Homo sapiens: one gene and its partners. The protein of the gene in region 6 purifies or fractionates together with the protein of the main gene of each other region. This does not show direct contact. Each region holds a gene or a part of one and is shown on either strand. Other genes may lie near its edges. The genes, in order: STAU2, NOC3L, CHLSN, TRIM56, DDX50, PRKRA and ZNF777.

What was found.
Region 1: the proteins of PRKRA (region 6) and STAU2 purify together in Homo sapiens (affinity purification with mass spectrometry; 2 studies listed by BioGRID and IntAct, with this or other methods). This does not show direct contact.
Region 2: the proteins of PRKRA (region 6) and NOC3L purify together in Homo sapiens (affinity purification with mass spectrometry; 2 studies listed by BioGRID and IntAct, with this or other methods). This does not show direct contact.
Region 3: the proteins of PRKRA (region 6) and CHLSN purify together in Homo sapiens (affinity purification with mass spectrometry; one large-scale study listed by BioGRID and IntAct). This does not show direct contact.
Region 4: the proteins of PRKRA (region 6) and TRIM56 purify together in Homo sapiens (affinity purification with mass spectrometry; one large-scale study listed by BioGRID and IntAct). This does not show direct contact.
Region 5: the proteins of PRKRA (region 6) and DDX50 purify together in Homo sapiens (affinity purification with mass spectrometry; 2 studies listed by BioGRID and IntAct, with this or other methods). This does not show direct contact.
Region 7: the proteins of PRKRA (region 6) and ZNF777 purify together in Homo sapiens (affinity purification with mass spectrometry; one large-scale study listed by BioGRID and IntAct). This does not show direct contact.

The regions. Positions count from the first base shown.
Region 1 is NC_000008.11:73,547,667-73,551,742, forward strand, and holds part of STAU2 (double-stranded RNA-binding protein Staufen homolog 2), read right to left. Parts: exon of another isoform or gene 1,935-4,076; intron 1-1,934. UniProt on the Homo sapiens protein: RNA-binding protein required for the microtubule-dependent transport of neuronal RNA from the cell body to the dendrite.
Region 2 is NC_000010.11:94,345,631-94,349,706, forward strand, and holds part of NOC3L (nucleolar complex protein 3 homolog), read right to left. Parts: intron 3,749-4,076; coding exon 3,620-3,748; intron 927-3,619; coding exon 795-926; intron 1-794. UniProt on the Homo sapiens protein: May be required for adipogenesis.
Region 3 is NC_000007.14:1,009,105-1,013,180, forward strand, and holds part of CHLSN (protein cholesin), read right to left. Parts: intron 1,197-4,076; exon of another isoform or gene 1,128-1,196; intron 1,040-1,127; coding exon 846-1,039; intron 1-845. UniProt on the Homo sapiens protein: Hormone secreted from the intestine in response to cholesterol, where it acts to inhibit cholesterol synthesis in the liver and VLDL secretion,leading to a reduction in circulating cholesterol levels. Acts through binding to its receptor, GPR146.
Region 4 is NC_000007.14:101,091,557-101,095,632, reverse strand, and holds part of TRIM56 (E3 ubiquitin-protein ligase TRIM56), read right to left. Parts: 3' UTR 1-4,076.
Region 5 is NC_000010.11:68,914,815-68,918,314, reverse strand, and holds part of DDX50 (ATP-dependent RNA helicase DDX50), read right to left. Parts: intron 1-3,500. UniProt on the Homo sapiens protein: ATP-dependent RNA helicase that may play a role in various aspects of RNA metabolism including pre-mRNA splicing or ribosomal RNA production.
Region 6 is NC_000002.12:178,437,541-178,441,616, reverse strand, and holds part of PRKRA (interferon-inducible double-stranded RNA-dependent protein kinase activator A), read left to right. Parts: coding exon 1-7; intron 8-1,373; exon of another isoform or gene 1,374-2,750; intron 2,751-4,076. UniProt on the Homo sapiens protein: Activates EIF2AK2/PKR in the absence of double-stranded RNA (dsRNA), leading to phosphorylation of EIF2S1/EFI2-alpha and inhibition of translation and induction of apoptosis.
Region 7 is NC_000007.14:149,457,973-149,462,844, forward strand, and holds the start of ZNF777 (zinc finger protein 777), read right to left. Parts: upstream 3,091-4,872; 5' UTR 2,843-3,090; intron 2,617-2,842; exon of another isoform or gene 2,175-2,616; coding exon of another isoform or gene 2,058-2,174; intron 1-2,057. UniProt on the Homo sapiens protein: May be involved in transcriptional repression. Inhibits cell proliferation through CDKN1A/p21 induction by down-regulation of NIBAN1/FAM129A at low cell density.

The DNA of each region.
Region 1 (4,076 bases), on a different chromosome or scaffold from region 6:
TTTAATGGCAAATCAGAGCAGTATCTGCTGACCAAACCCACAAATGTGTTTTGCTCATTGTAGTCTAAGTAATTTATTATGGTTTTATACATTTGTTTAATAGCCTACATGAACATTTGGTCTCAGAGGCAACACAGTAAGTTATGTTTCAATGACAAATTAAAAATAAGGGAAAACACACAGTTGGGCCCTCCATATCCATGGGCTATGCATCCAAATATCAAAAATATTAAAAAAGAATTGAAAAAAAACCACAAAAAAGCAATATGGTATAACCATTATTTATATAGCATTTACATTATATTAGGTATTATAAGGCATCTAGACATGATTTAAAGTATAAGGGAGGATGTGTGTAGGTTATATGTAAATACTACAACATTTTATATAAGGGACTTGAGCGTCCATGAACTTTGGTATCTTTGGGGGTCCTAGAACCAATCCTTCCTGCAGATACCAAGAGACAACTATATTCCTAAATGTGGGTGTGTATGTACATGCATTATTTCTTTCTCCATATTCTCCTAAGAGGAATTTACAAAATTGTACTTGTATTGATCTCCTAACAAAAATGAATACCTTATTCTAAAAAAAAAAAAAAAGCTGCTGCAAATAGCCACCTTGATGATAACTATATGGATTGGAAAACATGAGGTATAGGAGAGATAAGAATAAATAGGTGAAAGGTTGATTCTCAGATTCTCAGGGAGACCAGCCACCACCCCCCCACTTCCACCAGCCCCATCCCAATATAACCTATACTAAGTCATATTGTTAAAAAATAAATACTTAAAAGAAGCCTGTGGCTATAAAAACCTGCTATCATCATATTAAACTCCACAAAAGGAGGCATATGAGTTGAAATGTATTCAGCGTGAATTATATTTGAAAAGGAAGATTTTAATTTAAGTGGACAATCTCATCTTGCTGGAAATGGCATGATTATGATCAATAATGAAATGCCCCTCCATAAAACACTCCCTGATTTTGGACAATAAACTAATTATAGTTTAACTAAAACACCAACTAAGTGTTTCTTTATATTATTTATGTGAGGGAAAAAACCTAGTTTGTTACACTATACTCGGAAGGTTTCACAAACAACACTGTTACAGTGGATGATGCTCACAGGAGAGGCACAGAATAGCAAACTGAAATGAAATCCATCTAGAAGGGACGATTTGCTAAAATAATCCACTTTCATTTTCAACCTAATTTTTAATGACTAGTTTAAACAAAGAAACCACTTATATTTATAGATTTCTAATATAATTAGCATAGAAAAGCATATTAAAGATGTGAAAACTTAAAATAATGCAAAGTACAACATGAAACAAATTCTTTCACTTCAGCTCAAATGCACAGCATTTCAAGAGTGTCTTTTGCATAATAAGTTTCTTTAAAAAGCTGAATGATTTTGAAACATTTTGCCATTATAGTAAAAGTGTACACAACAAGGAACCCTGAAACACTATGGTAGGACTACAACTTTGAATGAGTTCTTATAAAATGTGTAGAAGTTACAGAAGCATACGATTAGGCTGAACAACAAAGTCTGAAGTTCACAGAACTACTGAATAAAACATTTAAAAGAATATAAATAAAACGTATTAATACTTGATAAAACTTGAAAGAAATAAACATTCATTTCTGACAGAGATCCAAAAGGTTCGATTCTAAAATACGATAAAAACTTTAGGTGAGACCAAACAAGAATAACAGAACTGCTGAGAATGTGTAAGTGTTCGGTCACATTCTGCTCTCTTAAGTCAGTTTTATTAATAACTTTAATTGTATAATAATTTTACCTATTTTGTAGGTTTAAAAGAATTTGAGCTTGGATACCTACATTCAGTTGATCAAAGTAGCTTTTTGTAATTTATAAATTCAAATTAAAGACTGGGTGATGAAACAAAATTAAAAGTTAAAACAACTTTGTTTTCAATACACTCATATATTTTTACTTTGTAATACAATATAGCTGTCACATACAATGGCTCTAGTAGGCTTAAATCAAATTGCAATGGGCAAGGAAAGCCAAAGAAGGGTTTACACAATATTCAATAAGCAACAGTATCTGTTCAGTGTGCAATAAAATAAAAAAGTTCTAACCTAGAAACACAGAAAAAGAATTTATTGTTTTTAAGTTTCAGAAATAAAAGTAACAGAATAGTGTATAATCTGTAACAAGCTGGTCCTGTAATTTCTAAACTACAGTCCAATTAAAACATTTAAGTAATAGAAACAATCTACATGTTTTTCTACCAGGTAAATATACCTGAGAGGGTTACCTATAAAGAAATAGGCTTTAAAACTTTTAACCACAAAGAACCTTCTGCTGCGACATTATGAAGATGGGCTATGCATGTGGCCAGACTAAGTCATTTCCCGGAGATTCTGCTCACTGCTTAGCTGCAGGTAGTGGTCCATCAATGACAGAGTATTTTACATCAATACCAGCTCATTCAACCAAAGAAGCACAGTAATATTTTAAAATCACCTGTTTATATTCATTAGTATGTAAAAATCACAATACACAGATTTGGAAACATATAACGTGTCCATAAAAAAGAGTATATTATGTAAGCATAAGCTTTTTAAAAAGGCCTTAGCAATGCAATAATGAGGGAAGCAGACTCTACATGTTGACTACAGTGAAGATATGTTAAAATTATAATTATTGTCATTGCCAAGAGCTTAGAAATAAAAACAAATTTAAAAAATTAAGACATTCTGGTAGCAAAATTACAGCTACTGTAACAACAGCTCCAAGCAAAAAATCAATTCAGAGCTTGAATGCAATTTGTGCTTTGTTTCTATAAGAATGCAGTGTTACTCTCAGACATTTCTAAATGATTAGATTCATAAATAAGCAGTTAATTTCTTTTCATCACAATTTATTTCTAATTCATCCTACGGAGATTATAGATAGAACTAAAAATTACTTAGCTTTTTTCCAGTACTTTATATAAATTGAGATCTTTTTTAAACAGTGATTTATTGTGTTTCTTAAGGTAAAACAACAAAAACAAATTCTAAAATTGTAACTTTAAATTAAGTGGTTAAAATTTCAGATGACAGAGCCGATAACTGGTAACAGCTTCTTGAAGTTCATATTAAGAGTCCAATTAGAAACACTAACAACTACCTGGCAATAGTTTGAAAGAATCAGAAGGGTTCGGTGAAGTGAAAAAAAAATCCGAACATGCAAAATACCCCCCAAAACACATGACCTTCTTTTTCATTTTATAATCTAAACTTGTAAAATATTTATAAATACATGATCATTCTACACAATACAGATCTTCTAGAGCATTTCTAAAGGATATTACAGTTTTTGGTCTTAAGGAATAAAGACTAAGATGGAAAAGGAGATGAAAACAGTGAAATCTGAGGAAGCAATACACTCTCTACACACAAGCAAACTAGTTCATCCAGTCAAGTTAGCGGTTACAGTTCAGTACATGATTTTCAAGGCAACTAAGAAATCAAGACACAGATATTTCCCCTTCCTAGAGTTTACAATTCTTTCAAAAGCTCCAATGTATCCATAAAGGAGTGCTGATTTTTGTGGGGTTTTTTCCCAGAAGGAAACAAAGAATAAATAGGGGAAAAAAAGTTTCCATCCCTAAATTCACATACACAACAAGTTAAGTTAAACTATAAGCTAGTTTTAGACTACCCAGTGAAACAGAATTGTTGGTACTATCTGAGGCAGGTGCTACCCTCCCTAGTCAGTTCAAAACATGATCCAGTAAAACAAATACACATTGTTATGCCTCAAACAACTATAAAGCATTTCATTATTCTTCAAATATCATGTTTAATTAACTCCTAAGGTAATAGACTTCTAGAATGTTGTATCTTAATGGTGTACCTGAATCAATACTAGCAATAGAATGCAAAATTCAAAATTGCTATAAAGGTAAAATCATCATAAAAAGAAACTCAATCCTTATGTAAAAAAAGGGAGAACTGAGTGTGAAATACTAACACCAAATGTCTGAAGGCAGAATTTTTGTTTGTGGAAGACAGAGCGAAGAGATAGATGCACCTAATCAAGACCAAATAGAAGA
Region 2 (4,076 bases), on a different chromosome or scaffold from region 6:
CAACCTGCATTAGGATAGTATAATATAAATAGTTAAAATATGTATCTTCTTTTGTTCACAATTATTAAGTCTATTTTGATACTTCCATCATGTTTTCAAAATTAGACCCATTCAAAGATGAATATCCCCAGAGATTACTTTTGTTTTTACAAGCAACTTGATCACTCTAATAAACTGTTTAGAAATGTTCTGAGATGTGATGATAACAATAATAGTGATGATGGTGGTGGTACTAAAACTAAGGTTTATAAAGCCTGCCAAGTGTTTTATATGCATCATCTCATTTAACCTGCACGATTACCCTGCAAGGTAGGTACTATTATTAGCCCCGTTTATCAAAAAATAAATAAATAAATAAATAAAGTTTCCAAAGTTTCAGTAAATAAACAAGCGGCTGAAATTTCAACCCAAGTTTAAAATACAAACCAACAAAGAAACAAGATTCAATTAACAGAAACTCACTTTGCTGCCAACTTCACGTGAATGCATCTTTTCTGTTAAGGAAGGAATCTGTGTATCATAACTCTAAATTGATCTAAAAAGCCAAAGGATAAAAGCCAGCATGGCAAAAATATCTTTTCATCTATTGCTCTCCTTGCCAATCATTATCAGTTAAAACTGATTTAAGAAAACATTTCTTTGCAGTAACAGGAAAAGATAAAATTCTCTAAATGATGTATTTCAAAACTTTTATGTTTATGATTTAACTATGATTTTTACATGTGCCTATAAGTTTAATCTAAGATCAAATAAACAGAAAATTTAAATGAAACAAAAGGGGAAATAAGTCAAACCTTTCTCTGCATTCTTGATAGAGATTTTCTCTTTTCTTTGAAAGTCATAAATTTTTTTGGTTTATTAATGTCTTCTGTATCTTTTTTCACTTCTACTTCCTTGATTCTTAGGCATAAAAATGTTTTTAACATCTAATATTGGAAAAAAAACACAAATATACAGCTTAATATTTATATTGCCCTCAAAAACTTTACATAGAAAAGCATTTAACAGTGTTATTTCCCTCGTTCATGAAAAAACCTTCAAACATCTTTTATAACATTTTACACCAACTTCTTTTATCTGTATGCTATATTAATAACTTGTGTCTATGGAAGGACGGGAGCAAACATACAAAACGGACGCTAGCAAATACTAACTAAATATACAAAACTTTCTTTGCAGTTTAATGAGTATAAGGAAGAGAGAACACATGCCAACAGGATGACAAAGAGAAAACAGGCCAGGAAAAGGTTTGGACCAGTATGGGAGAAGATACACAAATTGCTGGGCCCTATCCCCAGAGTTTCTGATTTAGTAGGTCTGAGTTGAGCCCCAGAATTTGCATTCTAATTCCCAGCTGATGCTGGTCTGGGGACAAAAATAAAAATTATTGCTTTATGCCATTCAAAAATTCAGAAACTAATTTGGAAACTGGTGTTTTGTGTGATACAGCAAACTTCGCATACTCAAACACTAAGAACAAAAGGGGTTTAAAATGCTACACTTTCTCTGGATGAAATCACCCTACCGACCTCCCGCAGGCACAGCAGCATTCCTGGAAAAAACCTTGAGAACTACAGGTTTGTATTATTTTGATGTTCCAATATGCACATTTGGAAGAAAGCTGAGTATTTGGGATTACACGGCTAAAAGCACAGAATGAAACAAGGAATAACTAAAGGCATAAAGAGTGAACCTGAAGTCATTCTAGGTATCAGAAAGACCAACTCTGAATATTTTGTAGGTACTGTATGTGCTCAAAATATCACCTACCAACGAAAAATAACTCCAAATCAAATGATGTAGTTTTTACTCTAGCATCACGAAAGTTAAAGGGTTTTCCTATGGCTGAGTTTCATGTTCAAGCCTTATCTGATTGCTCTACAATTCTAAGTAAAGATGCTAAATATGCTCTGTTACTTTCATTTAATGTTTATAATTTTAGCAATTCAACTGAAATCAGATTTAAGAAAATAAAAAGGAATCTGATGCCAAAGGAAAACTGTGAAATCCAGAAATAAAATGGTAGAACAGCTTAACACCCAAAACTGTATTACTAAAGACAAATTAAAATATCTAAGACCTCAGTGAAGAAAACTATAAAATTTTACTTAAGAACATAAAAGAAGTCTTAAATAAATGGCAAGATATGATATTCTTGAATAGAAAAAAATCAATTCTGTAAATATTTTAATTCATCCAAACTAATCAATACATTGAATCGATTCTAATCAGATTCTCTGTGTGGACTATTTTGAGGGAAGGAAGTGAAAAATGGATTCTAAACTGCCTGGAGTAATATACTGAAATAAATAAGAATATTGTGGAGAAAAAAGAATAGTCATGTCTTTTATCAATTATACCCTTTCTGATTATTATTGTACCACATACCCAAATATACTATAGATATAACACAATAATTAAGCAGCATTTTATATCAGCAGAAAAAAAATGGTGATGAAATAACTGGCTGTCAGATTATATCAAATATATACATAATATAAATATTCAATATATATTAAACTATATAAAATATATATTCATTACATATATTAAACACAGATATTAAATCTGTACTCATACCACACATACAAAGATGTCAAATGGTTTAAATATTTAAATATAAAAATTAAAATTAAAAATCTCGGAGAGACTCCGTAAATTGGGATTGAGGAGACTATGTGCATAACAAAAAATATAGCTTCATATATAAGGCTGAACACAGAATTAAAAGGCAAAGTAAAAAAGAGAACAATCTGCAACCTATGTAACAAAGAGTTAATATTCTTTATGTAATGCAAGCTCCACAAACAGATAGTTTCGTTTCTTTTGTTACTATTTTATTCCCAGGACCTAAAAAAAGTGCCTGGCACATAGCAGTTATTTATTAAAATGAATATGTACTAAAAACTCATCACAAGTCATTAAGACAATTACTTTAAGAGAAAAACTGACAAATAATAAGCAGGTAAAAAAAGTTTATATATATATAAACTTTTCACCTACCTGACTAACAAAGATTAAATAGTAACATTCTGAGCAGGTAGGAGGGAACTGACACTCATATTCCTAGCAGGAACACAGTGATTAAATGTTTTTGAACAACAATTTGAGTTTGTAAATGTGATTACTGTTGGATCCAGCATCTACATTTTATAAATTTAATTCACAGAATATTCACACAATATGAAAAAATAATATGGCCAAAATGTTCTCAACACTGACTGTGGCAGCAAAAATCTAGAAAAAACTCAGCTGTTCAACAATTAGGGCACACAATGGAATACTCTGGTAGGCATTAGAAAGAATGGGATAACCCTATATGTAAGTTCACAATATAGAAAATGAAAACTGTTCCAGAACAGTTTTCAAAGTATAAGCCCATTTTTTATTTTAAAATATAAGCAAGTATATATGACTATATCTGCAAAGAAAAACATCTAGAAGGATAAATACCGAACTGTTAATAGTATCAAACATTTCAGGAGTTGACATGTTAAACACTTAAGGAGCTTGAATACTTTTTACTTCATACACTTATAAGGAATAAATTCCTCATAACAACTGAAAATCAACTTTGTAATTTAAAAACAAAATGCAAAGTAAAAAAAAAAAGGCTCACCTCTGGCCTAACTTCGTAATTTCTGCCCTTCACAAAACCAGAAATCACTTTAATTACACCAAGAGAAGCTTGGCCTAATTTATCTTGCTTAAAGAGTTTCTTCACAGCTTCACAACACATTTCAGATATCTGAAAAATAAAATGTCATACTTAACCAGTGTTTCTCAACCTTAGCACTACTGACGTTTTGGGTAACAGAATTCTTTGTTGTAGGGGGACTGTCCTAGGATGTTTAAAAGCCTCCATGGACTTTCTCCACTAGATGCCAGTAGTTAAGACTCTATCGCCACCACAGTCATCACAATCAAAAATGTATGCCGACATTGCCTAATGTTCCCTGGGGGACAAATTTGCTTCCTGTTGTGAACCACTACACCAAACTTATGTTCAGATAATTTTCTTCAGATAGACAGTGTTTAATAAATTGACATTATTTTACCAATAAATAACTTCAGAA
Region 3 (4,076 bases), on a different chromosome or scaffold from region 6:
GCTAGCTGCACAGCCACACTGGGGGTCATCTCTCCGAGGAGGTCATCTCTCCGAGGGCCTCCCACAGAGGTGCGGCTGGAGCCTGTCCTCCCAGGCAGGGCCAGTGCCCCCACAGGACACCCTGCCCCTCAGGGTGACTTCATCACAGGGACCCAGTTCTTGTCTCTGAGGAAGCCAGCCACGTGGACGCCGTGACACCCCTTATTCTAGGTGCAGTCAGCACTCAGGGAGACGGACAGGAACGGGCAGCAGCCTGTGCTGGTAAGCGCCGGGGAGGTGGCCACAGCCCGCAAGGCTGTGGAGCCCACGCCAAAGCCTCTGACCCCTGCAATCCTGCACCGTCCACCCAGCCACGCCGCAGGCACCATCCACCCAGCCACGCCGCAGGCAGCCAGGGAGATGGCACCCTGTGCCCAGCACCCCACAATCCCCGTCTTCCCGCTCTTGGGTGGCAGTGGCGCCTCCTGTCACTGTGAGTGAGGGCTGAAGGCCACCACGAGTTCCCTCCTCCTCACCCCCACGTCCAAGCAGCACCCAGGCCCGTGGATTCTTCCTGTGGTGACGTACACCTGGGGCAAGGTTCACCATCAGACCCATTTCTAAAAGCACAGTTCCAGGCAACCCCTGCACGGGCAGCGGCTCTGCTGCCGCCCCTGAAAGTTCCTGAAGGCTCTGGGCCATTCAGACAGAAAGGGCAGCGGCGGCAGCACAGGCCTGGCATGAACGCTCATACCTCACTGCTCTAGAACCTTCCACACAGTGTGTGCGAGTGAAGGCTTCGACCCCCTCAGGCAGGGGTTGAGACGCACGTCCGGGACAGAACCGCGTGGGGCAGGGCCGCTCACCTGCAGAGGTAGTCCAGGGCCAGTTCGGCCCCCGAGCGCCTGGCAGGCGGGTGCTGGGCCACAAGGCCTGCCTCCCGCAGACGCTGCCTCTCCTCTTTCTTCCGTTCCTTTTTCAGCTTCCTTTCCAGGACCCTCTGCTCCTCTGGGGACAGCTCTGGCTCTGCGTCCAGCCCGGGCCTGAGCACAGCTTCGCCCTGAAAGTCAAGGAACACATTAGGCTTCGGGGATGGAGGGTATCCAGAGACGGGTGCGCTGCCTGGGGCTTCCCGAGCCCACCCTCACCTCAGTAGTGGCCAAAAGCTCTGTCCCCAAGCACTGGGTCTGGCCCCAGCCGACACCATCCTGCTAAGCCTGTGCTACGACGAAGAGACAGACAGGTCACATGAGGATGGCCAGTCCTGCGGGCAGGCGCCAGGTGCCAGGATTAACTGCCCAGAGGCCCCTTCCCCACCCCCGTGGTCCACCTCCCACAGACTCCCGGCTCCCGAGGCTCTGTGAGGTCCTGCCCCACCCCACACAGTGTGGGAAGATCCGGGCCGGCCCCCAGGGAGGGCTGAAGGTGTGCTGGTGTCTGTTATCACACAGGCCAGGTGCTGGCCCCAGACCCGACCCAAATCCCGAGGACGGTGCCTGGGGCCTGCTGCTTTCTGGCAGGTCACTGGCTGCCTGGCTCCCCCTGGGCTGCAGGCTGGGGACAGGGAGGGGGCCAAGACCCCCAAGGGAGGGAGAGGGCCCGCTGTGACAATGTGTCCCCAGCCACATCTTGCCAGGAAAGCACAGGCCCTCCGTCTTGCCCACCCTCCCCTCATTAACAAAAGAAGAGGACGGTGCAAAGCGTCAAAGCCGGGGCAGCCGGGCCACGGGGTGACCATGAGGTGACCCCAGCCGCTGTCCACATGCTTCGTCTTTTTTGGAAAAGTCAGAACATCAGTGTAGACTCCGAGCAAGGCCAGGAGCCCAGGGAAACAGCTAGGGGCGTGGGAATCAACCAGGCAGCGCCCACCGGGAGCTTCCAGGAAGGGAGGCCGGGCACAGCCCACGCCTACGCATCCCACCCCAGGGAGAGCAAAGAAGAGTGAGGCAAGCCCCCCTACATACAGATATATATGCAACCCACCCCCCCGACACAGACACACACATTCACAGACTTCACCCCTACAGCCAAACACAGCCCCCAACCCTCACCCATGTACCCACACCGACCCACACCCACCCACACCCACCATACACCCACACTCACCCACCCACACCCACAGACACGGACACATACCCACACCCACAGACACCCACATACCCACCCACCCATACCCAACACACCCACACCCAGATACCCACACATAGACCAACACCCACACGCCCAGACACCCCCACATGCCACACACCCACATACAACCACACACACCGACACCCACACACATCCAACAAATCCACAGACACCCAGACACCCACAGATACCCAAACACCCACAGACACCCAGAAACACCCACACACCCAAACACGCCCACAGACACCCAGACACACCCACACCCAGACACACCTTCACACGCCCAGACACCCTGACACACCCACACCCAGACACCTGCAGACACCCACAAACACCCAGATACCCAAACACACCCAAACACATCCACACACCATCCCAACATACCCACAGCCACACACGCCCACACCCAGATACACACCCAGACACCCACAAACACCCAGATACCCAAACACACCCAGAGACACCCACAGATGCCCACACACCCAGACACCCACAGATACCCACACACGCCCACAGACACCCACAAACACCATACACACACGCCAACACACCCACAGCCACACCCCTAGAGCCTGCCAGGGGTCCGCAGCAAGAGACAGGGCCTGGGGGACGAGGAGCACCGTCCCTGGCAGATGCCTGGCACAGAGAGGCTGAAGAGTCCCGGTGGGAAGGCCTGGGCCGCCCACACACACAGGCAGGAAGCTCTGAGACCCACCAGGCCAGGCACGCAGGGCTCTGGGGAGCAAGATTTTCATGGTGGGGATGTGGACACCCCCAGGGGAGCCTGGTGACTGACCGGCTCCAACCAGCTCCATGCTCACCTCCTAGGCCCACAGCCGCCCACAGCCGCCAACGGGGCAGGCACAACAACTGGCCCTGAAAGGTAAAAACCCTCCTGGCACAGGCCCAGCCTCGGCCCCCACTCCATGGGCCACGCAGTCCACGGCTGATCACACGGGCCAAAGTCCATAACACTGTTAGGGCTGCACAGGGGCCGCCGCGGTGGCCGAGGGTCTGTCAGCCCACATGCGTGGGGCACCCGGACAGGCCCTGAGCAGGTGGGCAGGGCCCTGTGGTAGGGTCCCAGGTTGGTGGCCAGAGTGGTGAGGACGGGGCCAAGGCTGTGGGCAACAGCAACGTGGGCGCTGGCCTGGGGTGGATGGCGAGGGGAACCCAGGCCGTCCCATATCGGGGCCAAGCCGGGGACCCGCAGGCCCAGCTGTTTCCCGCAGGCTTCCTGAGCGCCCGGTGCAGGGCTGCTTCTTGTGTCAGGCACCAGCCTGGATGCTGCGGAAACAGCTTCCTTCACACCCACTCTTGCTTCTGGCCACCAGCGCTCCCGACCTGGCAGGAGTCACAGCCCAATTCCCGTGTCCCCGAGGGAGCCACTGTGGCCACGAGGTGGGAAGCTCAGGAGTGCCACCCACTGCCCTGGGCTGTGCCTGACACTGGCCGGTGCACCTTTAACTTTTCCAAACTCCTGCTTTCTGTGCTGGGCCTCAACAGAAGACGCAGGGGCAGCTGGAGTGAGGGTGCTGCGCCCGGAGAGCCAGGGGCCTTGGGGGTGCCCGGCTCCACTCTGCGCCATCGGCTGCCCCGTGCTCGCGCTCGCTGCCTTGGGGGTGCCGGCTCCACTCCGTGCCATCGGCCGCCCTATGCTCGCGCTCACTGTCCTGGACCAGGCAATTCCCCAAGGCTGTGACCACGACGTGAGCGACCTCAGCTATCTTGGGATGACACAGGCGGGCCCCGGGAGGGTGTGCAGCTGGAGGGGGCGGGAGGCAGCAGGTCCAGGCAGGCTGGAGGGCACAGGCCGCGGCAGGTCGTGGGGAATGGGAGCAGCGCGGGAGGGTGGTGGGGCCGCCAGGATCGGGCGTGGTAATGCCGGGACCTGCTGCTTGCTCTGCTTGGCCTGCACAGTGTCTGGCCCGGAGAGCACAGGTGAGCAAGGTAGGACGGCTGTCACC
Region 4 (4,076 bases), on a different chromosome or scaffold from region 6:
TGTGGGACTATCTTCTTGCAGCCAGGTGACGTTTCATTTCTGAAGGTTTCTATTGTTTTGCCCCCTGGGTGGGCCACGTGGCTAGAATCATTTCACCAGCCAGGACCACTGCCCATGGCTCCCATGCAACTCCGGAGAGCTGCTGTTTCCACCCCAAGGTGTGCGATCCCCTACAGTACACGGTTCCCAGTTACCCCCTCCACATGCACAGAAGCGGGACACCCCGATCTCATCTCTCCCTCTTTTATCCCCCCCTTAGGAAACCAGGTTTTGCTCTGTCACTCAGGCTGGAGTGCAGTGGCACAATCAGAGCTCACTGCAGCCTTGAACTCCTGGGCTCGAGCAATCTTCTGCCTCAGCCTCCCGAGCAGCTGGGACTACGGGTGCATGCCACCACCTCTGGCTAATTTAAAAATTTTTTTGTAGAGATGGGGTCTTGCTATGTTGCCCAGCCTAGTCTTGAACTCCTGGCCTCAAGACATCCTCCCGCCTTGGCCACGCAAAGTGCTGAGATAACAGGAGTGACCACTGCACCTGGCTCAGTCTCATTTTTTTTTTTTTTTTTTGACGCGGAGCCCAGCCTTGGGAGGCAGATGCGAACCGTGTCCACAGTGCCCCCTACTGGAGATTCCCCACAAGCCGAGGTTTTGGAGGTGGGAAAGCTTTGGAGAGTCATACCAGTCTCATCCTTGTCTAGATAGTAATTCACTTCACAGACATTCACTGAGCACCTACTATGAGGTATCACAGTGCTGGCTCTGCAGACAGAGCTGCAATGAAGACAGACACCGTTCCCTGCCCCCCTCCCCCCGCCCCCATGTAGCTGATCCCTATTCTAGTTGGTCCTGTAGAAACTCCACTTGGTTTCCAGTTGGTCTGAGTTATTTGGTGAACTCAACAAAACTTCCCCCGCCTTCCAGACACTCCACGATAATTCGATCACCTGGCAGGGGGGACCCCGACCTTTGCAAACCTTCCCAGAGCGGTTCCTTGGACTGCCACCCTGCCCCAATGGCCCTGCCTCCTGGCTGAGCCCCGGCCGGGTGGGATCCTCCTCCCTGGCTCCTGCCTCTTCTTTCATAGGACAATCTCATTCGTTCTGACACCTTCATTCTCAAACCCAGTAGTTATTGAGTATTACTTATAAAGGTGTATTTCCTTGAAGCAAATAATCAAGCATGTATGTTATGTAATGGATAATAAAAACTGAAGTAGAAATGTACACGTATGAATAATAGCACAAAATAATGAAAAACAAACAAAAAACAAAACAAAAAAAACCCCAATCTCCCAAATTAATGACTATTTACAAATTCCGAACCTATTTCTACTCAGTAATTATTTAGACAGATGTTTTCCTTGTTACTATCACTATTTGATCATAATTCCTGATTCTCCGTTTTTGAGGATTATGACTGTATCACGTAACTATTTCTTCTCAATAGTTTTCATAGTTGTCATACACAAAGAAAGGCTCATTCCCCTAATAAACCACAATCTAGTTAGCTGTCACCCTGCAGCCGAACAGTTTCCAGTTCTTGCCTGTAATATACAGAGCAGCCTCAAATGTCTGTATGCAAATATTTTTTCTCTTACATTATTTTCCCAGAATGTATTCCCCAAAGTGAGACAACTGATTCTTATAATCATTTTTGTCATTCTTGCAAAGTCTAGCCAAATTATTCTCCAGGATCATTTTTATAGTGCCAGGAGTCTATTTCTCCGCAAGATTTCTCACCCATTTATTTAACATTTATTTTTGACCACTGCAAGTGGATTTAATTATTTATTTATTATTTTTTTGAGACAGAGTCTCACTGTGACACCCAGGCTGGAGTGCAATGGGGTGAACTCGGCTCGCTGCACCCTCTGCCTCCCAGGTTCAAGCGAGTCTCCTGCCTCAGACTCCCCAGTAGCTGGGATTACAGGCATGCGCCACCACACCCGGGTAATTTTTGTATTTTTAGTAGAGATGGGGTTTCACCGTAGTGGCCAGGCTGGTCTCAAACTCCTGACCTCAGGTGATCCACCCACCTCAGCCTCCCAAAGTGCTGGGATTACAGGTGTGAGCCACCGCGTCCAGCCTTTCTTTTTTTTTTTTTTAATTATTATTATTTTTTATTTTACTAGTCCTTGCCTGCATACATTTCCTCCAGGGTACAGAGCTTATGTGGTTCTTTGACCAAATACTGTTCTAGTCATTGCATGTATTAGAGACCAAGGCTTTCCTCGTCAAATCAATTCTGCATGGTTTTCCCATCTTCTTGGTTTTCTTTTTTTTTTTTTTTTTTTAATTTTTTATTGATCATTCTTGGGTGTTTCTCGCAGAGGGGGATTTGGCAGGGTCATAGGACAATAGTGGAGGGAAGGTCAGCAGATAAACAAGTGAACAAAGGTCTCTGGTTTTCCTAGGCAGACGACCCTGCGGCCTTCCGCAGTGTTTGTGTCCCTGGGTACTTGAGATTAGGGAGTGGTGATGACTCTTAAGGAGCATGCTGCCTTCAAGCATCTGTTTAACAAAGCACATCTTGCACCGCCCTTAATCCATTTAACCCTGAGTGGACACAGCACATATTTCAGAGAGCACGGGGTTGGGGGTAAGGTCTTAGATTAACAGCATCCCAAGGCAGAAGAATTTTTCTTAGTACAGAACAAAATGAAGTCTCCCATGTCTACTTCTTTCTACACAGACACGGCAACAATCTGATTTCTCTATCTTTTCCCCACCTTTCCCCCTTTTCTATTCCACAAAACCGCCATCGTCATCATGGCCCGTTCTCAATGAGCTGTTGGGTACACCTCCCAGACGGGGTGGTGGCCGGGCAGAGGGGCTCCTCACCTCCCAGACGGGGCGGCCGGGCAGAGGCGACCCCCCACCTCCCGGACGGGACAGCGGCCGGGCGGAGGCGCCCCCCACCTCGCTCCCGGGCGGGGCGGCTGGCCGGGCGGGGACTGATCCCCCACCTCCCTCCCGGAAGGCGCGGCTGGCCGGGCGGGGGCTGACCCCCCACCTCCCTCCCGGACGGCGCGGCTGGCCGGGAGGGGGCTGACCCCCCACCTCCCTCCCGGACGGGGCGGCTGCCGGGCGGAGGGGCTCCTCACTTCTCAGACGGGGCGGCTGCCAGGCGGAGGGGCTCCTCACTTCTCAGACGGGGCGGCTGGGCAGAGACGCTCCTCACCTCCCAGACTGGGTCGCGGCCGGGCAGAGGCGCTCCTCACATCCCAGACGGGGCGGCGGGGCTGAGGTGCTCCCCACATCTCAGATGATGGGCAGCCGGGCAGAGACACTCCTCACTTCCTAGATGGGATGGCGGCCAGGAAGAGGCGCTCCTCACTTCCCAGACTGGGCAGCCGGGCAGAGGGGCTCCTCACATCCCAGACAATGGGCGGCCAGGCAGAGACACTCCGCACTTCCCAGAGGGGGTGGCGGCCGGGCAGAGGCTGTAATCTCGGCACTTTGGGAGGCCAAGGCGGGCGGCTGGGAGGTGGAGGTTGTAGCTAGCCGAGATCACGACACTGCACTCCAGCCTGGGCAACATTGAGCACCGAGTGAACGAGACTCCGTCTGCAATCCCGGCACCTCCGGAGGCCGAGGCTGGCGGATCACTCGCGGTTAGGAGCTGGAGACCAGCCCGGCCAACACAGTGAAACCCCGTCTCCACCAAAAAAATACGAAAACCAGTCAGGCGTGGCGGCGCGCGCCTGCAATCGCAGGCACTCGGCAGGCTGAGGCAGGAGAATCAGGCAGGGAGGTTGCAGTGAGCCGAGATGGCAGCAGTACAGTCCAGCTTCGGCTCGGCATCAGAGGGAGACCGTGACCATGGAAAGAGAGGCAGAGGGAGACCGTGGGGAGAGGGAGAGGGAGAGGGACCTTGGTTTTCTTTCTTTTCTTTTTCTTTTTTTTTGAGATGGAGTTTCATTCTTGTTACCCAGGCTGGAGTGCAATGGTGCGATCTGAGCTCACTGCAACTTCCACCTCCTGGGTTCAAATGATTCTCCTGCCTCAGCCTCCCAAGTAGCTGGGATTACAGACGCCCGCTCCCACGCCTAGCTAATTTTTGTATTTTTAGTAGAGA
Region 5 (3,500 bases), on a different chromosome or scaffold from region 6:
TGTATACTTTAAAATGGTTAGTTTTAGTTATGTGAATTTTACCTCAATTTAAAAAACTGTAAATATGGCACTCTAGTTAAAGATATATATAGGCAGGGCGCAGTGGCTCATGCCTGTAATCCCACCACTTTGGGAGGCCGAGACGGGTGGATCACCTGAGGTCAGGAGTTTGAACCAGCCTGGCCAACGTGGTGAAACGCCATCTCTACTAAAAATACAAAAATTAGCTGGGCATGGTGGCAGACGCCTGTAATCCCAGCTACTCAGGAGGCTGAGGCAGGAGAATCGCTTGAACCCCGGAGGCAGAGGTTGCAGTGAGCTGAGACTGCGCCACTGCACTCCAGCCTGGGCGACAAGAGTGAAATTCCATCTCAAAAAAAAAAAGATATGTATGTTAAAATACTTACGGGGAGGCCAGGTACAGTGGCTCACACCTGTAATCCCAGCACTTTGGGAGCCGGAGGCAGGTGGATCACGTGAGGTGAGGACTTCCAGACTAGCCTGGCCAACATGGCAAAACTACATCTCTACTAAAAACACAAAAATTAGCCGGACATGGTGGCGCATGCCTGTAGTCCCAGCCACTCAGGTGGCTAAGACAGGAGAATCTCTTGAACCTGGAAGGTGGAGGCTGCAATGAGCTGAGATCATGCCACACTGCACTGCAGCCGGGGCGACAGAGCAAGACTCTCAAAACAAAAACAAAAACACAACACGAACAAACAAGAAAACCCACCACATCTTTGAGTGGTGTTAACAGTAAAAAAATAAGGAAAAATAAAAACCACAGGGATGCAAATCAGCAAAACAGACTGTGGGAAACTCATAAGGCAAATGAGTTTTTTTGTTGTTTTTTGAGACGGAGTCTCACACTGTTGCCCAGGCTAGAGTTCAGTGGCACGATCTCAGCTCACTGCAACCTCCGCCTCCTGGTTCAAGCGATTCTTCTTTCTCAGCCTCCCAAGTAGCTGGGACTACAGGCACGTGCCACCATGCCTTGCTAATTTTTGTATTTTTAGTAGAGACAGGGTTTCACTATGTTGGTCAGGCTGGTCTCGAACTCCTGACCTCAGGTGATCTACCATCCTCGTCCTCCCAAAGTGCTGGGATTATAGGTGTGAGCCACTGCGCCTGGCCAACAAATGAGTTTTTTCAACAGAAAATTGCAAAGAAAAAAAAAGGAACTATAGATTATAAAATGTTTAAGACGCATATCAATCAGTAGCAACGTCAAGAATTGTATTTGGATCCAGATTCAAACAAACTATTTAAAAAAGACAGCAAGGGCAATGTGCACACTAGGTATTTAATGATATTAAAGAATTACTATGCCAGGCGCAGTGGCTCACGCCTGTAACCCCAGCACTTCGAGAGACCAAGGCAGGCGGATCACTTGAGGTCATGATTTCGAAACCAGCCTGGCCAACATGGCAAAACCCAGTCTCTACTAAAAATACAAAAAATTAGCCAGGTGTGGTGGTGGGCGCCTGTAATCCCAGCTACTCAGGAGGCTGAGGCAGGAGGAATCACTTGAACCAGGGAGGTGGAGGTTGCAGCGTGCTGAGATCACACCATTGCACTGCAGACTAGGCAACAAGAGTGAAATTCCATCTCAAAAAAAATTACTGTTTTTCTTCTACTGATAATGACTGTGGTTTTAAAGAGCCCTTAGTTATCATTTTGGAAATACATACAATTACTTGAAGATAAAATGATGACTGGGATTGTTTCAAATGCAGGGGTGAAGAAAAGATCATTGTTAAAGACTGGTAATAGGTAATGGGTATATCATGTTCTTTATACTATTCAATCTTTCTATTCAATTTACTATTCAATTTTATATGTTTGAAAATGTTCTTATCAACTGTTTTTTACTATACATTTTACATTCTTACTGCAAAACTTTCAACCATTACAAAATAAAAAAGCTTCTTTTTTCTTATTCTTTTTTTTTTTTTTTTGAGACAGAGTCTCAATCTGTTGTCCAGGCTGGAGTGCAGTGGCGCAATCTCAGCTCACCGCAACTATCACCTCCTGGGTTCAAGCAATTCTCCTGCCTCAGCCTGCCGAGTAGTTGGGACTACAGGCGTGCGCAACTATGCCCAGCCAATTTTTGTATTTTTAGTAGAGAAAGGGTTTCATTATGTTGGCCAGGCTGGTCTCGAACTCCTGACCTCGTGATTCACCCGCCTCGGCCTCCCAGAGTGCTGGGATTACAGGCATGAGCTACCACGCCCGGCCCACAAAGCTTCTTTTTACCATCCAGCATGCCCCTTCCCAGAAGTAATCATTATCTGATGTTTATTCTTTCAACCTGTGTTTGTATATTTACATAAATGCCTAAGGAATCCATTTAGCACTATTTATTTTTTAAAATAGTGTAATTTTTGTATACATCATTGTATAATTTGGTTTTTATCACTGATTGTTTTTAACCACTGCATTACATTCTGCAGATACTACTATTCACTTAGTCACCTAGTCTTTCCTACATACACATATATATGCATCTATTAAATAGAAAGATGACATGTTACCTAGTTGCCTGTCATAAATACGGTAAATATTACCTTTAGTTCTTTTTTCTTTTTTTTTTTTTTGAGATGTTGTCTCACTCTGTCTCCAGACTGGAGTGCAGTGGCACGATCTTGGCTCACTGCAACCTCCGCCTCCCGGGTTCAAGCAATTCTCCTGCCTTAGCCTCCTAAGTAGCTGGGATTACAGGTGCGGGTCACCACACCCAGCTAGTTTTTGTATTTTTAATAGAGACGAGGTATCGCCATGTTGGCCAGGATGGTCTCGATCTCCTGACCTCGTGATCTGCCCGCCTCAGCCTCCCAAAGTGTTCAGAATACAGGCGTGAGCCACCGCACCCAGCCTTTTTTTTCTTTTATTTTTTTTTGAGACAGAGTCTCGCTCTGTCACCCAAGCTGGAGTGCAGTGGCGCGATCTTGGCTCACTGCAAGCTTCACCTCCCGGATTCACGCCATTCTCCTGCCTCAGCCTCCCGAGTAGCTGGAACTACAGGCGCCCGCCACCATGACCGGCTAATTTTTTGTATTTTTAGTAAAAATGGAGTTTCACCGTGTTAGCCAGGATGGTCTCGATCTCCTGACCTCATTATCCGCCTGCCTCAGCCTCCCAAAATGCTGGGATTACAGGCGTAAGCCACCACGCCCGGCCCTAATTCTTTTTTTAAACATACCATTGGTTTAACTTTCATGGAGTCAAAATTATAAACCTTTTCCTTTATGGATTCTTCTTCTGACTTCTGTGGTTTTTTTTTTTTTTTTTGAGACAGGGTCTCCCTCTGTCACCCAGGCTGGAGTACGGTGGCGCAATCTCAGCTTACTGCAACCTCCACCTCCTGGGTTCAAGTGATTCTCATGCCTCAGCCTCCCAAATAGCTGGGACTACAGGGGCCCGCCACCAGGCCGGCTAATTTTTCTATTTTTAGTAGAGACAGAGTTTCACCATATTGGCCAGGCTGGTCTCACACT
Region 6 (4,076 bases):
TTCTTTAGTGAGTAATGTTGACAGCTATGATGTTAATGTCATTAAGCATTTCTTGCAGTAGGAAACTTTCCTTGATTTCTTATTCTATAGCTACTTCAGAGTTGTGATTTTTAGAAATCTCTTCATTATTCAGTTATACCCTACCCCATTTTTAGCTGCTTCCTGTTTGTGAGTCAGGATCACAGAGGCAATTAGGTAAGAGAGCTTGGGAGACACAGTCAAATTCAGAATAATAGGACGGGATCTAAAGATGATAGGCCAGTAGTGCCATTTTTGCCTTCAAAGTGACAGCGCATTTCCATCCCTTTGTTTGTTCATTCATTCACTTAGCAAACATTTAGTGAGCTCATACTGTGTGCTAAGTGTTGTGTTGGGTACTGGGGTGCAGTGAATAAGCAGTCCCTGCCTCTAAGGAGTTTATAGACTACTGAAAGGAAGGAATTCTATAGGCTAGTCCTTACAGAGTGTGATGTGGGAACATAGAAGAAGGCATCCAACAAAAACAGGTTTGGAGACAGATTCCAGGAAGAAGTAATGTCTAAGCCAAGACCTGTAGAATGGGGGAAAAGAATTCCAGAGAGAAGAAAAAGCGTGTGCAAAGGCCAGGAGTGAAACATCGTATGCAGTCTAGGAGCCCTAAGTGATTTGTTGTGTGTAGAACATAGTGTTGGAGGGAGGGAGTCTCAATGAGGCCAGCAAAGTAAAGAGGGATTAAATCTTAAAGGGACCCCTATATAAGGAAAGTGAACTTTATCCCAAGGGTAGTACAAAGTCATTAAAGAATTTTAATCTGGGAAGGACAGGATCTAGTCTATACATTACAAGGAAATCACTTGGCTGCATTATGGTAAGTGAGTGAAATTAGGATCAAAGAGACCTGCGAGAGTGCTGTTACAGAAGACACGTGAGACATGACAGCTTGAACTAAGGTAGTGGCTGGGAAAATGGAGAGAGATGGGTAGATTTTAAAGTTATTTAGAAAACTGAGGTAAAGGGGCATGGTAATTGATTGGATGTGGGAAGCAAGGGAAAGGGAGGAAATTACTATTTTAAACTTGGCAATAGCAAGAGGGGAGCAGATAATGAACTAAATATATTGAATTTGAAGTGCTTATGGAATAGCTTATGGAATAGCTAAGTGAATATATCGAGTAGCTGAACAAATAAATTCAGAGCTTAAGAGATTGGCCTACACATGATATATAACTTCAGATTCTGATATTCACAGATAGGTGTGTCATGTGGTACATTATCTGAGAGTAGTGTATTAGGTGGGAAATAAAAAAGTACAACTGTAGCAACTTCTTCACTGAGCTTATGATAAAATAAGGGCTCATTCTTTAGAAAAAAATCAAAGACTATATACAAATGAGTAATATAATTTGATTTTACATTTTTAATAGAAAAATATAAAACACTGCATTTACTGCTTTTGGAATTTGAGTCAACAGTATCACCAAAATTACAAAGCACAGACAGATTTACAGGTGAAATTGGTTAAATCTTCAAAGAAGAGATCATTTTCAATGCTATTTAAACTCTTTTCAGGCAATGTATAGATAACATAAAGGAAACTTTTAAATTTATTCTCCAAAACCAACATAATACACCAAAACCTGACAATAGCAAGTTCAACAGAAAAAAAAAAATTACAGATCAATATGCCTTATGGTGAAACACCTTTGTAAAATGTTCAGTACAATATTAAAATAATGATATAGCATTGACAAGTAGGGTTTATTTAACTAAGACTATTTCAAGGTTAATAAGTTGGTTACTTTAATTAACCACATTAATGTGTCAAAGAGTAATATATAATCCTCTCAATGGATGCCAAAAAAATTTTGATAAAACTCAGCAATCATTACTGATAAAAACTTGGAAAAAAACCAAAATCATGGTTATATATTTATACATTATACTCATTCCCATTAATATCAGAAATAAGGACGCCCACCAACACCACTTTTATTTAACCTTGTTCTAGAAGTACCCACCAATTAAAAACAAATTAGACAAGAGAAAACAGTACGAAGTTGGAAATAAGAGGAGATAAAATGGTTACTAACTGCAAATGGTATGATTGTATCCCTTTAAAACCCTAAAGAAAAACTACTAGAAACAAGAGAATTCATCAAGGTAACTGATTATGAAATTAATATACAAAATCAATAACTTTTCCATATTGCCCAGAGTTATGTAGGTAACAACCAGAATAATTAAAAATAAAAAGCTAAAAATTATTGTATCTGGGAAGGGGACCTGAAGGTGGAGAAGGGGCAAGGCAGAGGTTGTTGCTTTTATACTTCTGTACTATTTGATTTTTTGCTGTATGTGTGTATCACTTTGACAAAACTTACGAAGCTTCATAACATTGGTCATTTTATAGAAAAATAGAAAATCCTATTCTGAGAAAATATACTAGAAAAAAGTCAGTAGTTTTCTTATTTACAAATAATAACTAGAATATAGAAGATCCCAATTTAAATTGTAGACAGGGATAGGCTATATGAAAATAAACTTAGAAAGAAATGCGTAGGACCACGTGAGGAAAAGTCTACTAAAGAATAGAGCAGAAAACATTGTAAATATATTTAAATGTAATGTGGTCTCACTCAAAACCTACCAGCGTTTGGCCAGGCACAGTGGCTCACGCCTGTAATCCCAGCACTTTGGGAGGCCGAGGTGGGCGGATCATGAGGTCAGGAGATAGAAACCATTCTGGCTAACGCGGTGAAACCCCGTCTCTACTAAAAATACAAAAAAAAAAATTAGCCGGGCCTGGTGGCGTGCGCCTGTAGTCCCCGCTACTCCGGAGGCTGAGTCAGGAGAATGGCATGAACCCGGGAGGCGGAGCTTGCAGTGAGCAGAGATCCACGCCACTGCACTCCAGCCTAGGCGACAGAGTGAGACCCCAACTCGAAAAAAAAAAAAACCTACCAGCGTTCATTTTGGACCTTGATACACGTTTATTGAAGTTTATCTGGAAAAAAACCCTCAAGAATAGCCAAGAAAACTGAAAAGGAAGAGTTGGGAGAGCAAGGGTGTGCTGCTTTACTAGAGAACAAAACATACTGTAAAACTGAACTTGTCAGACAAGTTACTGGGCCAGGAATAGTCAGAGGAGCGAATAGAGAATCCAGGCGTAGATGCTAATCCACATAGGACCATAGTATATAGCAACAGTGAGATTTCAGATCAGTGGGTGAGAGGATGGATTATTCAATAATGATGTAGAAACAGTTTACATCCACATTTGGGTGGGGGCTATATATATATATTTGTTGATGTGTATGACATCTATTTAGAATGCTTCCTTATTCCTTACACCAAAGTGAATTTCAGATGGATCAAAGATTTGAACATAAAAATTTGAAACAGTATAAATATTAGGAAACATGGAAGAGTTTTTCTTTTTAAAAATCTTAGCATGGGGAAAGCATTTTAACTTAAAACCTAGGTTAAAAGATTAATACATTTGACAACATAAAACCTACTGCACAGCAAAAAATCTGTAAATTAAGACAATAAAAAAGTGGGAAGAAATTATTTTCAACATAGAACTATAAAGGAACTGTTTTCAGTACTACCTTTAAAGCTCTTTTGTACACATCTGCTGCACACAGCAGCACATGCCTGTAGTCCCAGCTACTCGGGAGGCTAAGGTGGGAGGACTGCTAGAGCCCAAGAGTTTGAGAGTTAAGCCACACAGCAAGATCCTAACTCTTAAAAAAGAGAAAATTTAAAAAGCTCTTATGCATCAGTTAAAAAGACAACCCAGTAGAAGAAATGCAAACGATTAAGGGAAAAAAAGAAAAAATATTCAACTTTATTCATGCAAGATAAAATATTTTCACCTTTTAGATTGGCAAAAACTACAAAATTTGATAATAGCTGGTATTAGTGAGGGTATGAGAAAACAAGCCCCCTCCAAGACAGTTGGTAGGAGTATAAATTGGTTCAGAAATCAGTTTGGAAGTATTTATCAAAATTAAAAGTGTACATGTTCTTTGACTTAGCAGTTCCACTTCTAGAAATAATTCTACAGAGAAACTCATTCAAGTGCAAAAGAGTGT
Region 7 (4,872 bases), on a different chromosome or scaffold from region 6:
GAGGCAGCTGGCCAGGCAGGTGTGTGCTCTGAATCCTTTTTACCTCTAAAATCCCGAGGCCTGGATATTATTTATACACAAAGACCTGTGGCAGGTTTGATAGGGTTGGGAGAGGTGGGGAGGAAGGCCTTGCCTTTAGAGATATTATCATTTAAGTTGGGGTCAGGGACCTCTTTGAAAACCTAATGAAAGTTTTGGGTTCTTGTCCTCAAAAAAGACAAAAGGGCACATACACAGAATTTTGCAGACATCTTCAAGGAGCTCACAGACCCCTAAACCTGCAGGCTCATCAACAGCTAAGCCACCTCTGAACTCTTCATTCCCTGTGAAGGAAGCGCTGGGGGCCCTGGAGGCTAGGCGCCTGGCTCTCAGGGAAAGTGACTGCCTAACGCAACACAATAGGCACATTACAGCCCTTGCCTTAGAGGGAGATTAGGGTATCTGCCTAGCACTAGAAAGAAGAAGAGGAAAAAATCCCTGGGGAGCAAGTTAGTCTCTCTGAGTAATGCAGAGGTTTAACTGAAACAATGAAACAAAACAAAACAAAACAAAACAAAACAAAACAAAACAAAACCCTCCAGTATAGTAAACAGAGCCAGCAGACCAAGGCATCTTTACCAGCTAGACAAATCAGAGCTCAAAGGAAAATACTATTTCTTTGCTATTATTAGACTGTCTCTCTCCATTTCCGGATTTGGAGGACTGTAGAGGGGCCACAGGAGGGTGTTCCCTCCCTCGCCTCCCAAATAAAAGCCCTTTGCTATAATTTAATCCATCCCGGTAAACCTGCCGCTTATCTTACCCTAAGCAGAAAGAAATGACCAAAGAGAGGGAGGGAGCTGTAAATATACCTAAAACGAATAAGCTCAAATTCTCAAATTCCTGGTAGGGGGTTGGAGGGAGAATTCTTCTGAACCATATTTGTAGGATTTAACGGTCCCTCCTTCCCCGACGGATCAGGAGTGGATGGATTCTCCAGGATTCATGCCACATTAGCAGAAGCATCCATAACCACAGTATCTGACTTATTAAGAAAGTCATGGCATTTTTTTGAATGACCCAGTATGGTTCACCCAGCATTATATACCATTCAAGGGCCCCGAAGGCCTGAGCCCAGAGTAAGGCATGTAAACATCTTCGTTTGATTTTATTTTCTCATGAGTTTTTTTTTGATTAAAGAATTGGGATGCTTTTTAGAAAGCTATATATCCTGCCTCCTTCCTGTGTACACAATAGGAAACTGAGGCTCAAAGGCACTGACTCCCATGCAGTAATCCTCTCACTAGCACGGCCAGGGCGTCTCAAAGAGCAGGTCTGCGGGAGGATCTGAGGGATGATTTTTTAAGAGTGTCTTCCTGAAGAGGAACATCAGCCCCCAACCCCTGAGAAGCTTACTCCCCAGACACCATCTGTCAGGGCACTCAAAGTTTAGCCTACGACCTTCCAGACGCAGAGGCCGGAGGCAGAGGCTGGAGCTCAGAGGGTCACCTGCTCCCACCGCGGAGATGCCCAGCTGGGCGCTGCCCGGCCTCCCCCGCCGCCCCCGACGGGCCGCGTCCGCTGCCAGGGCGGCCCAGCCCCTCACCCAGGGGCGGCCGCCGCCAGAGCCACCCCCTCCCCGTCCAGGCCCGCAGCCCTCTGGGCAGGCCTTTCTGGGGCTGCCGCACCGTGCCACGGATGCCTTGCTACGTGACCTTGGGGCCGGCAGGGCGGGTCGCCGCCAGGTGTCTGTGCCTCAGTGTCTCCGTTCTGCGAAATGGGAGAGCCGCGTCAGCGCCGCGCCCGGGCCGGGGAAGGCTCCGCGGGGCCGAGCTCTGCGGAAAACGTGCCGGCGGCTACCCCGACGGACGCAGCGCGGGCCCCGCAGGGAGCGAGCGCGCCTCCGGGCGCCCCACCTCGGGGCCGCGTGTGTGCCGGGCCGGGCGTGAGAGCAGCCTCCCTCGCACGGACGGCGGCGAGGCCCGTAGCCCTCCCCCACCGCCCGGGTCAAGACGCGCGGGCCCCCTCCAGGGCGCCCCCACCCCCCGCGCCAACGTCGTAGCGTTTCTGCCCCTTACCGAGATCCCAGGCCGGGCCGCCGAGCCCGGGACACGCAGGCCGTCCCCGGGGCCCCGAGGCCGCGCGTCCGTGCGCGCGCGGGCCGCCCTCACAGGAGCCGGGGCCGCCTCGGCCATGGCCCTGCGCTGTCCGGCCCGGGCCCCCGGAGTCGCCGCCGCTACTGCCGCCGCCGCTACTGCGCGCGGCCCCACGCAGGCCCGGCCGCCCGGCGCTCTCCGCAGGCGGCGCCGGCCCAGCCCTGTCTTCCCCGCCGGGGCTCGCGCGCGGCCGTCGGGCCCCGGCCTGCTCGGGGCGCGCGGGGCGAGCGGGCGCGGGGTCGCGGAGCCCGAGCGGCGGCGTCGGAGCTGGGCGCGCGGCTGTGCGGGCGGCCCGGCCGGCTGCGTCCCGGCGGCGAGCTGGGCCCCGGCCCTCAACGGCGGCCCCCGGCCCGCGCGCCGCCCCTCTGCGGCCGCGGCTGGGACCCCAGCTCCGGCCCCGGCCCCGGCTGCGAGCTGCGCTGCCGTCCCGGCGCCTCTTTAGCAGGGGAGCTGCACAGCAGCTGCCATGTTGCTACAAACTGCATCCTGGGAGGCATGTCCCTCTCAGGCCGTTTAAAGAGAAACACTCCGAGGCTCGTCGGAGGCTGCCGGAACCCAGACAGCTCCATCTACAGCCGGTAGGAGCGAACAGTGTCGAGCGAGCCGCCCGGCGGCGACGGACACGCCCTGAGCCCGGGCCAGCCCGTCGTGGAGCCCGGGCCGAACCGCCGGGGCCTCCCACCCTCCAGGACCCTCCGGCCTCTCACCTGGGGTCCTCGCCTGCCCAGGCACCCTCGGGCGAGGCCGGGAGGCGCGCGGGCGGAGGCGCAGTCGGAGCGCGCAGCCCAGGCGACGTGCTGGGGTCTGGAGGCGGCTTGATTGGCTCCGACAGCCTTCCTCCCGCCGATCCCCTGCGCCTCTCACACCCAGAACCCGGGGTCGTTCCCTTTCAAAACCTGCGCTCACAAAGGGATCTAAGAAACCCGTCACACCAGAGAAAGCCCGGAGTTCATGTGACCAGCTCAGTGCAGCCCGGGTTCCAGGGACGCGGGCTGTGCTTCCAAGGGGAGCCAGGGGGTTGGGTGCTTTTGTGAAATGCCCGAGTGTTGTTTTCGACATGAAAGGACCGAATTCCTAGAATCAGACCCTGCTGGGGCTGGAAGTGGCCAGACGGGTCATTTAGGAGGAAACTGAGGCCGAGTGGGCAGCGACTTGTTTACCCTCAGTCACAGTATGAATGAATGCTCTTTGTAACCATGAGAAGTCCCAAAAGAAATGCAGGAGCTTAGAGTTGAGAACTCCCCTTCCTGGACAGGTCCACTTAAACATGTATTAATTGAATACCTACGAGGTGGCGAGAACTGGGGATGAATTGAAAAGGAAAAAAAAAGAAGAAACTATAGGCAGGCGTCCTGGTTACTAGCGATGAAGCCCAACTGGAACTAACTTAAGTGAGGGAAGACGGCGGGGGGGAGCAGAGGACATTGTGTTTACCTAATGGAACCCCAGGAGTGGAGCTGGTCTTGGAAGGCAACAGGACTCAGTATGCTGGCAGCTCAGATAATGGAAAGTTATGGCCAGACGTGGTGGCTCATGCCTGTAATCCCAGCACTTTGGGAGGCTGAGGTGGGCAGATCACGAGGTCAAGAGATCGAGACCAACCTGGCTAACGTGATGAAACCCTGTCTCTACTAAAAATACCAAAATTAGCTGGACGTGGTGGCGCGGCCCTGTAGTCCCAGCTACTTGGGAGGCTGAGGCAGGAGAATCTCTTGAACCCGGGAGGCAGAGGTTGCAGTGAGCCGAGATCGCCCCACTGCACTCCAGCCTAGGGGACAGATCAAGACTCCGTCTCAAAAAACAAAAAAAAGGAAAGTTACAGATAGAGGTAAGGCCAGAGCTATGCATCCTGTCCCCTCCCTTCCCGGAGGCTAGAGTTCTCACCCAGGTCTTTATGCATTAACTAACATGTGTGCATTCGTAAACAATGCACACTACTGGTTTTGGTATTTTTACATTTTATGTGAATGATATTATCCAGTCCCTATCCTGTTGCAACTTGCTTTTTTCCATGGGTCATTTTGTTTTTGAGATACAGACATGTTTAAACAAGAATATCTGGTTCATTCATTTTACCCACAATATAGTATTTCATTGAATACATAAACTACAGTTTACGTTCCATTCCCCCTAGAGGAATGAGAACAAACCTGCTGCCAGCGACATCTGCATGCATGTCTCATTGTGCACTGCTAAAGTGCGTCTCTAGAGACGCCTAGACATGGGACTCTGGATGGCAAGAGCACCTTCATCTTTCCCCGGCTTCCCGAACTGCTCACTGAAGGGATGGTGCCTACTTACACACCCACTATCGTGTGATTTTCTCTTTCCCCATCCTGGCTCATACTTACTGATAATGGACTCAGAACGTTTGCCGACATGATGACTGTGAAATGGTAGCTCATTATTTTAATTTGTATTTGTATTTCCCTGATTAATGAAGTTGGACATCTTTTCATGTTTACTGACATTTGGTTTCTTCCTCTGTGAATTTCCTCTTCATATCATTTGCCAATGTTTCTGTTGTGAGATCTTTTTCTTATTGGCTTATAGGTATTTCATTAAAAATCTATTCTGGATCTTAATCATATCACCAAACATTTAATGTGATTACTAATACGATTGCATTTAAATCTACCATCTTACTAGTTATTTTCTGTGTGTTCCAGGTGTTCAGTGATACCTCTCTCTCTCTCTCTCTCTCTCCCCAACTGCCTGCTTTGAGGTTGAGGTTTTT